Linked DNA regions of Homo sapiens: region 2 is linked to region 1. The links come from fine-mapping of genetic effects on gene expression. A gene starts in region 1. The other region holds a variant in brackets. All regions are shown on one strand. Distances are from middle to middle.

Region 1 (5,159 bases):
AGCTGGGCATGGTGGCGTGTGCCTATAGTCCCAGAGAGGCTGAGGTGGGAGGATTGCTTGAGTCAGGGATGTAGAGGTTGCAGTGAGCCAAGATTGTGCCACTGAGATTTTTTTTTTTTTTTTTTGAGACACTGTCTTTTTTTTTTTGAGACGGAGTTTTGCTCTATTGTCCAGGCTGGAGTGCAACGGCACAATCTCAGCTCACCACAACCTCCGCCTCCTGGGTTCAAGCAATGCTTCTGCCTCAGCCTCCCAAGTAGCTGAGATTACAGGCGCACACCACCACGCCCAGCTAATTTTTTTGTATTTTTAGTAGAGACGGGGTTTCACCATGTTGGTCAGGCTGGTCTCGAACTCCTGACCTCATGATCCACCCGCCTCGGCCTACCAAAGTGCTAGGATTACAGGCATGAGCCACCATGCCTGGCTGACGCTGTCTTAAAAAAAAAAAAAAAAAGATTAGTCAGGGTGTAGTGGTGTGCCTGTAGTCTCAGCTACTCGAGAAGCTGAGGTGGGAGAATTACTTAAGCCTGGGAGGTCGAAGCTGCAATGAGCCATGATTACACGACTGCACTCAGCCTGGATGACAAAGTAAGACCCTGTCTTAAAAAAAAAAAAAATCTCAAAAATGTAATACTGTAGACAAAGCATTGTGGGGGCTGAAAAAAAAAAGGAAAAAATTAATATTGAACAAAAGAAGCCAAATTCAAAATAGGACATATTGTATGATTCCATTGACATACAGTTACACAGACACACTAATCTTTAGGGCTAGAAGCATGAGATGGCTACTGAGGTGCTAGTGATGTCTTTTTCTTCATCTGGGTAGTGGTTACACAGGTTTGTCTATTTTGTAAAGATCAATCAAGCTACAATTATTTTGCATGGTATACCTGCATCAAACCATCTCGTGTACCCATAAATATATACACCTACGATGTACCCACAAAAATTAAAAAATTGAAAAAAATTAGTCAAGCTATGAACCCGGAAGGCGGAGGTTGCAGTGAGCCGAGATCACGCCATTGCACTCCAGCCTGGGCAACAAGAGGGAAACTCCGTCTCAAAAAAAAAAAAAAAAAAATTAGTCAAGCTACATAAGATCTATGTGCTTCTCTTTATGTATATTTCAATTAAAAGTTTGAATTTAAAAATAGTACTAATAATAAATAGGCTAGCTGCATATAATTGGAAAGGCAGCTTATGAACCCAGCATCAATAGCTTTCAGTTCTTTTAGGATTGTTTAAGAAAAGGTTACATCAGCTGGCCAGGCGTGGTAGCTCATGCCTGTAATCCCAGCACTTGAAAGCCTAGGCGGGCGGAACACATGAGGTCAGGAGTTCGAGACCAACCTGGCCAACGTGGTAAAACTCTGTCTCTACAAAAAATACAAAAATTAGCTGGGGGCACCTGTAATCCCAGCTACTCGGAAAGCTGAGGCAGGAGAATCACTTGAACCCAGGAGGTGGAGGTTGCAGTGAGCTGAGATAGTGCCACTGCACTCTAGCCTGGGCTGGAAGGAAGAATTTGTTAAGGAGCGACAAGAGCAAAACTCCGTCTCAAAATAAATAAATAAATAAATATAAACAAATAATGTTGTTACGAACATTCTTGTACAGCTTTATTTTTTTTTTTTTGAGACGGAGTCTCGCTCTGTCACCCAGGCTGGAGTGCAGTGGCGCGATCTTGGCTCACTGCAAACTCCGCCTCCCAGGTTCACGCCATTCTCCCACCTCAGCCTCTCCAGTAGCTGGGATTACAGGCGTCCGCCACCATGCCCGGCTAATTTTGTTTTTGTATTTTTAGTAGAGATGGGGTTTCACCATGTTAGCCAGGACGGTCTCGATCTCCTGACCTCGTGATCCGCCCACCGTGGCCTCCCAAAGTGCTGGTATTACAAGCGTGAACCAATGCTCCTGGCCTGTTTTTTTTTGTTTTTTTTTTTTAAGAGACAGGATCTTGCTATGTTGCCCAGGCTGGTCTTGAACCCCTGGGCTCAAGTGATTCTCCCACCTCACCCTCTCAAGTAGCTGGGATTACAGGCATGAGGCATTGCACTCAGCTTCTTGTACAGCTTTCTTGTGTGTATATCCAGGAGTGGACTTTGCTGGGTCATAGGGTATGTGTATTTTCAGCTTTAGTGATTATATTTATATATATATATATATATATACATATGTATATATATACATATGTATATATATGTGTATATATATATATGTATATATGTGTATATATATATGTGTATATATATATGTATATATATTTTTTTTCCTTTTTTTTTTTTTTTTTCTTGAGATGGAGCCTCGCTCTGTTGCCCAGGCTGGAGTGCAGTGATGTGGCTCCAGTGGCTCACTGGAGCCTCAAACTCCTGGGCTCAAGTGATCCTCCCACCTCAGCCTCCCTAGTAGCTGGGATTACAGGCATGCACCACCATGCCCAGCTAATCTTTTTTCTTTTTCTTTTTTTCCTTTATTTATTTATTTATTTATTGAGAAGGAGTCTCGCTCTGTCGCCCAGGCTGGAGTGCAGTGGCGCGATCTCGGCTCACTGCAAACTCCGCCTCCCGGGTTCACGCCATTCTCCTGCCTCAGCCTCCCGAGTAGCTGGGACTACAGGCGCTCGCCACCACACCCGGCTAATTTTTTGTATTTTTAGTAGAGACGGGGTTTCACCGTGTTAGCCAGGATGGTCTCCATGTCCTGACCTCGTGATCCGCCCGCCTCGGCCTCCCAAAGTGCTGGGATTACAGGCGTGAGCCACCGCGCCCGGCCCCGGCTCCTGCTCCTCTAAATATTAGAGGCAAGCCTCGAACCGGAGCTCCGGGATGCATGCCAATCTCCGGTTGCGCCTGCGCGTCGGGCTCCCGTGGGGTCCACGCATTTCCTACCCGGCCCCCGCGAACAGGCGTAAAGCTCTTTCTTCAGTGCTCGCTCTAGTGCGCGCGCCCGGACGGCGCCTGCGCAGAGGGCAAGGAACCTGGTACCCCGGTGCGGTCCCGGCGCCTGCGCGCTGCGGACTGTGGGGCTTCTCGGCCCGAGGCAGAGGAACAGGGAAGATGGCGGCTGTGGTGGAGAATGTAGTGAAGCTGTGAGTGGTCGTTTCTTTCTCTCCTAGGGCGGCAGGTTTTGTAAAGGGCCTGGGAGTAGGGGGCGGTGGGGGAAGGGACTAGGCGGAGAGAGGGACATCCCCGGGAAAGCCATGTTGCGACTCCTGGTGGGGAGGGCAACAGGAGACTCCGGAGAAGACGTTGCGCTTCTTTGGAAACTTGTGGAGGCCCTGGTGGGGGCACACTGGAGCCCCGACGGGCGGCATCCCTGCGGGGCTGTGTGGCCTCAGCGTTCCTCGGGGCTGACGGTTTCCAGAGCATGGCGCCCTGCCTGCACGCGAGACTCACCGTCCCGGTCCTCTCCCGAGACGCCTCAGTCCGGAGGAGCGGGGCCGAGGCCCGGGCGGCCCTACGGCTGGCCCGCCGCCCACCCCGCCCCGTCCCGTCCCGTTCGCTGCAGCAACAGGCTCGGCGGCCCCTGCGGAGTGCACTGCGGGGCTGGCTGTTTCAGTTCCAGGCAGCCCCGTGATGTTTGGGAGGATCTTGGGTGGCAGGTACCTAAGACTACAAATATTCTTGGGAAGAATTTATCGAGGAGCGGATCCAGAAGGGAAGGAACTTCAGGGGAGTGGGCCTTGGCCCCGTCCAGTAGCAGCCATCAAAAACCTGCAACTGGACCGAAGCCGTTCAGGACAGCTTAGCCTAAAGGGGCATCTAGGTGGGCATTCTTCCTATTATACGATACCATTGTGCTGGTCAGATTTCAAGCAAAGTTAAAGTTAATAGCTGTTGGGGCCATGGACGCTGGCCTATGAACTGCTTCCTGTGAGTTAAAGATGCTTTGGGACTTGATTTATTCCTACAGAAGAATCAGAATGAGTTTTAGATTGGGTTAATGCATGGTGGGCGAATAGAGCTTCTTTTAATGGGTATGTTGGGCTTGGTGCAAGGGTGGGAAAATTGAGTGGTGTCTAGCTGTCCAGTCAGGGTTTTTGCATTTTGACTGGATGACGAGGTAAAGGTTCGGTAACTCTTCTAAGGGACTCACAGCTTCTCATCTGTCTTTGTCGTGGCCTGAGCCCCACTCTTCCTAAGAGCCTTTTTAAAGAGTAAGTTGCTTCTCCCTCCTGCCTGAAGCCTTTTCTTTGAGAATGCTTTCCCACTTCCATTAAGCTAAGTGCCTTTCCTCCTCTTGTGGTTTGTTTTTTTTTTTTTTAAGTTGCTTTCTGCTCTATCCTGCTGTCTCTTTCAGCCACCCCTCCTCCCAACGCTATTGTCTTTCTCTCTGATCTGCCCACTCCAGTTTCCCCAGCTCTTTCTTCAGGCTGACATTTTTCTCAATTTAGAAATGACACTGTTGATCTACCATTTATCCAGTTATCCTTCCTGACTCAGATGTTCTTTCTTTGTTTCCCTGCGTCTTTGTTGACTTCCCTCATCCCATTGTAAGGGGATGTTTTACACAGGTTTCTCCAAAAATAAAAAGGAAGATTCTCATTGTACTGGGGGAGTATCAGACTTGCCTAGGTTTTGGGAGTTAAACGTAGTGAGGTTCTTCGTGTTGGAAGATTTTCCTCAGAGAAATAGGGTTGCCAGTGCTTTCAAGTTGTGTCATAAGTGAGGGGTTGCCCATTTAAACAGAGCGTGACATCTTGTTTCTCTTTGAAAAACTGTAGAGATTGTGAGCATCACCAGCCACTAATTCCTGAATGCCAGTAATGAGAAACCAACTCTCTCCTCCTCATTTCTAGCTGCACAGGGCCTCAGATCACAATTAATACGTACTCCCACAGAATTATCCCTTTAAGAAGGGGCTTCTATTCTTCCAGTTCATTTGGAGATATGGCACTTCTCTTGATTATAGTGTGCCTAGTCTTCTGACAGCTGATGTTATACATTGAGTACATTGAGGTCAGGACCACTAGCTCATCTTTTCTTTTTTTTTATTTTTTTAGACAGAGTCTCACTGTTGTCGGCCCGGGCTGGAATGCAGTGGCACGATCTTGGCTCACTGCAACCTCCGCCTCCCGGGTTCCAGCAATTCTCCTGCTTCAGCCTCCCGGGTAGCTGAGATTACAGGTGCCCACCACCACACCTGGCTAATTTTTG
Region 2 (5,159 bases), 120 kb before region 1:
CCCCTTTCCTGCTCTGCCCCTCCTTGCAGTAATCCCCAGAGGGCAGCCTGCTTTCTATGCCTTTTACCAGAGACATTTTATGATTCTATGCAGTCAAGCAAGTGGGTGTATATGTTCCATTCCCCCATTTTTCTTTTCCTGTTTTGTATTTGTTTTCTTCTTCATGTGCCCCCATTTTTTTCTTTGAGATGAGGTCTCACTATGTTGGCCAGGCTGGTCTCAAACTTCTACGGTCAAGCAGTTCTCCTGCCTCTGTCTCCCAAGTAGCTGAGGTGACAGGCCTGGTCATCCTTTTTTTGTGCAAATGCTGGCATACACCCCACGTGGTCCTGCACCCGGCTTTTTCTTCGCTTTGGAGGCCTCTCCTATTCCTTCAGAAAGAGCTGTCCCATTCCTCCTAGTCTTTACACTACATCCCACTGTATGAATGGGCCCTAACTTGTTCCCCGTTATTTTTTAGAGGTGAGGTCTCACTCTGTCACCCAGGCTGTAGGGCAGTGGTACAAACATAGCTCTCTGCAGCTTCAACCTTCTGAGCTCAAGTGATCCTCCTGCTTCAGCCTCCCCAGTAGCTGGGACTACAGGCACGCACCACCGCACCCAGCTAATAAAAAAAAAATTATTTTTAGTAGAGATCGGGGGGTGGGGGTGGGGGGGGGTGTCTCACTATGTTGCCCAGGCTGGTCTCGAACTCCTGGGCTCAAGCAATCCTCCTCCCTCTACCTCCTAAAGTGCTGGGATTACAGGTGTGAGCACTGCACCTAACTGACCCCTATTGACAGACGATGTGCAGCCAGCTCATGGCTCTGAAGTTGGCTCCTACGTCTCTCTCTCTGCACCTCTTTCCCCTTCCTCCTCTTCGCTCTCTCTCCCCTCTCCCTTCTCCTCTGCCCTTCTTCTCTCAGTTCAGGTTTGGGGGGCCCTCCCGGACTCCACCCCACACTCTGGAGTGTAGATGGCTCCCTGTGCCACACACCTCAGGCCCTCATCACACCGTGTCATGATACACCCTGGTCTTTCTACATGTGAGCTTGTGTCTTATCCAGAATGTCTTGTTTGTCACCAACCCTCAACTCAGGCCTGTCACTTAGAGGTGATTAATGATCAATGAACATTGTGTCACAATGAATGAGTGAATGAAAGAATGCATGAAGAAATGAAGAAACGAGTGAGTGAGTGAGTGAGCAGGCGAGTGAGTGGGCGAGCGAGTGAGTGGGCAGATGAGTGAGTGAGTGGACTAGTGAGTGAGTGAGTGAGCCGGTGACTGAGCGAGTGAGCGGGTGAGTGACTGAGTGAGCGGGTGGGCGAGCGAGTGAGCGGGTGGGCGAGCGAGTGAGCGGGTGAGCAAGCGAGTGGGTGGATAAGCGGGTGAGTGGGCGAGTGAGCGGGTGAGCGAGTGAGTGGGCGGATGAGTGAGTGGGTGAGTGAGTGGGAGAGTGAGTGGGTGGATGAGTGAGTGGGCGAGTGAGTGGGTGGGTGAGTGAGTGGGTGGGTGGGTGAGTGGGCGGATGAGTGAGTGGGCGAGTGAGTGAGTGGATGAGTGAGTGGGTGGGTGATGAGTGGGTGATCGAGCGAGTGAGCGAGTGAGTGGATGAGTGAGTGGGTGGGTGAGTGAGTGGGTGAGCGAGCGGGTGAGCGAGTGAGTCAGTGAGTGAGTGGATGAGTGAGTGAGTGGGTGGGTGAATGGATAAGTGAGTGGGTGGGTGGGTGGGTGAGTGGATGAGTGAGTGAGTGAGTGGGTGCGTGAGTGGGTGAGCGAGCGAGTGAGCAAGTGAGTCAGTGAGTGAGTGGATGAGTGGGTGGGTGGGTGAGTGGGTGGGTGGGTGAGTGGGTGGGTGAATGAGTGGGTGGGTGGGTGGGTGAGTGAGTGGGTGAGTGGGTGGGTGGCTCGGTGGGTGAGTGAGTGAGTGCATGAGTGAGCGAGTGAGTCGGTGAGTGAGTGAGTGAGTGGGTGGGTGAATGAGTGAGTAGGTGGGTGGGTGAGTGGGTGGGTGAGTGAGTGCGTGGGTGGGTGAGTGAGTGCGTGGGTGGGTGAGTGAGTGGGTGGGTGAGTGGGTGAGTGAGCGAGTGAGCGAGTGAGTCGGTGAGTGAGTGGATGAGTGAGTGGGTGGGTGAGTGGATGGGTGAGTGGGTGGGTGGGTGAGTGAGTGGGTGGGTGGGTGGGTGAGTGAGTGGGTGAGTGGGTGGGTGAGTGAGTGGGTGGGTGGGTGAGTGAGTGGGTGGGTGAGTGGGTGGGTGAGTGAGTGGGTGGGTGGGTAAGTGAGTGGGTGGGTTGGTGGGTGGGCGAGTGAGTGAGTGGGTGGGTGAGTGAGTGGGCGAGCAAGCGAGTGGGTCATGGAGTGTGTGGAGAAGAAAAGCTGCCTGTCTTCTTGGCCTGCTTCCCTGCTGGCCAAGTTGAGGCTGTGCGCTCTGGCCCTGGACCCTCATTTGCAAACAGGGCAGATCACCCTGCCATCCTGTCCTTGGGCCCCTCTGTGGCATGGCAACCCTCTGGTCCACATAATGACTCCACCCTGGCTCCTGCTCCCACACCAGGGACTGGCCAAGGGCTCACCCGCTGTGAGTTCTGGTTCGAGGCCTCCCTCCAGCCACAGCAGTGCTCAGGTGACCTCTCCCCACCTGCCACACGCCCCTCTGGGGCTTTGCAGAATCCCTGCCTTTCCTCGAGCCCGGACTAAATCTCCTCGCCAGCTTCCTTCTACACTATGTCCC[T/C]CTGTCTGTGACCAACCTCTGCCACGAAGCCTGGGTCCCAGCAGTTTCAAGTTTCTGTTTTGGAAGGGTGGCTTTCGCGGGGTACCCCATCTTCCCCGGGACTGCCTTGATAATCCCCTGCTCGGGTGAAAGGGGCAGGCGTGGGCTGCCCATTTGTTCCTTGGGGGATGCTGCTGCTGCCTCCCAAAACCCTAATGCCTGTGCCCATTCTCTGGACTCAGGCTGGGCTGCAAGGGCCCCCTGGTCTGGTCCTACCTGCAGCTGGCAGCTTCGGGGGCCGCCACAGCGTATTTCAGCTCCTTCAGTGCCTATTGCGTCTTCCGGTTCCTGATGGGCATGACCTTCTCTGGCATCATCCTCAACTCCGTCTCCCTGGTGAGTCCAGCCGAGGAGAGGCCAGGAAGGGCGGGGGCTCCTGAAAGAGCAGGGCGGGGGCGGGGGGACAGGGGGGTGGCAACGTCGAGGGTCATCGGACATTTTTCTCATGTTGTTTTGTTGGGATTCTCATCCAGCAACCTCAACTCAAAGCCTCCCGCCAGAGTTCTGGACCTGGGGGACCTGGGCTCCCGGGTAGTGGTGGCCCTGCTGGCTGTGGGTGGGGAGTCCCTGGATGGCCTTTCCCAGGTCTGGGCTTTAGTGTACTCATCTGTAAATTGAGAGGGTTAGGTTTATTTTATTTGTGAATTAGCCAACAATAACCACTTACTAAGCACCTATTGTCTCCAGGCTTAGTGTGGGGACACAGAGGCCACTGGGACACAGGAGAGGAGTGAGCCATGATGGTCCCCAGGGCAGCAGCCAGCCCTGAAATTGTATGACTCTATGAAGGCTGGTGATTCCTCAGCTTCATGGTGGAGACCTGGCTCCTGGATGCCAGCTTGGAGTGTTGCGCCCCCAAGTGATAAGTGGCAGGCTCAGTCCTCACTCTAGGCTGGTTCTGGGCAGCCCCTGGGTGGTCCTAGGAGAAAGCATCACGGGGCAGAAGGAAGCCCACCCAGGACACAGGCCTGCCACCTACCTATGTTTCATTTTAACTACTTAGCTTGCTCCTGGGGACACCACTGGGCACGGAAACTGCTGCCACCATCAGCTGTGCAAAGACAGGATGGATCTTTTATATCAGGGGTCAGGAAGAAATCTTGGGACCAGAGAACCAGGACACCTGACCTCCCCTCCCTCTCCCAGCACACAGCGGGATCTCAGCCAATCCCAGCCTACACAGCTCACTCTGCAGGGTGGGCATCCAGCCATGGCTTGAAACAGGTGTCTGAGGTCCACCTCGTGCTGGAATGGGCTCTAACACCTACACAGACACATACAGACACACACAGACACATACAGACACACATACACACGCATCAGAGACTGCCCAGCCTCTTAACACTTCCTGAGGCTGGAGAGGCCGGGCACTGTCTGGGGACATCTCCGCCTGTAAAGACGACTTTGTAGAGATTCCATCGAGTGCCCTGGAGCTCCCACCACAGGCCATGCCCTGCCTCGGGTCCCACCGCACAAGTGTGGTGACCCTCCATACATATATGCCTCCCCTCATGTTTGTTCCTGCGCACACTGTTCTGTATCTTGATTCTTTCACTTAACCAAGCTGTCACTGGTCCACTGCCTGATAGAGAGCCTCCTAGTGCCAGGAGAGGCTCTAGAGGTTGCGGTGAACACAGCCCTGCTCCTTGGAGTCCATGTTCTAGCGAGGCGAGATATCACCAGCATGCATAACGAATCGTATAGTATGTTCGAAGACAGTAAGTGCTACAGAGGAAAACCGAAGCCTGGAAAGGGGATAAGAATGGCCGGGTTGGCCAGGCGCAGTGACTCATGCCTGTAATCCCAGCACTTTGGGAGGCCAAGGCGGGCAGATCGCCTGAGGTCAGGAGTTTGAGACCAGCCTGGCCAACATGGTGAAACCCTGTCTCTACTACAAATACAATTAGCCCGAGCATGGTGGCGGGCGCCTGTAATCCCAGCTACTCGGGAGGCTGAGGCAAGAGAATTGCTTGACCCGGGAGGTGGAGGTTGCTGTGAGCCGAGATCGCACCACTGCACTCCAGCCTGGGTGATGGAGTGAGATTCTGCCTCAACAAAACAAACAAACAAAAAATCCCACAAAGAATGGCCAGGTTGGAGGGGAGGGGTCTGCAGTTTTAATTAGCGTGGTTTGGGAAAGACTCACTGAAAAGGGGTCATTTTGAGCAAAACTGGAAGGAGTTGAGGGAATGAGCCCTGCAGGTTTCTGGGGTAGAACATTCCAGGCAGAGGGAACTGCCAGGCAGAGGCCCTGCAGGGGAAAGTGTGCCCAGGGTGAAGAGCAAGGAGGGCCCTGTGGCTGAAGCAGAGTTGGGAGGTGGGCGACAGGTGAGGTCGGGGAGGGCAGTTCTGCAGGACCCTGTGTCCAGCGTTCTAGGACTTCAGCTTTGTCTCTGAATGAGACAAGA

Evidence for each region. PIP is the estimated chance that this variant, and not a neighbour inherited with it, causes the effect. A credible set is the group of variants that fine-mapping cannot tell apart.
Region 2: its variant is the best candidate, but not a certain one, in a credible set for the expression of DPF2 in whole blood (INTERVAL, PIP 0.67).

What each region holds. Positions count from the first base shown.
Region 1 is chr11:65,330,828-65,335,986 of GRCh38, forward strand. It overlaps DPF2 (double PHD fingers 2), which reads left to right and starts at 3,025. Exons shown (of 11, transcript NM_006268.5): 1 at 3,025-3,091. The coding sequence starts at 3,060. RefSeq lists an enhancer at 3,277-3,326 and a silencer at 3,377-3,466.
Region 2 is chr11:65,214,602-65,219,760 of GRCh38, forward strand. It overlaps the pseudogene SLC22A20P. Among named protein-coding and RNA genes, the nearest start is that of CAPN1, 35 kb to the left of the region's middle. RefSeq lists enhancers at 1-83, 2,111-2,674, 2,675-3,238. The variant T/C (reference allele first, on the strand shown) is at 2,713.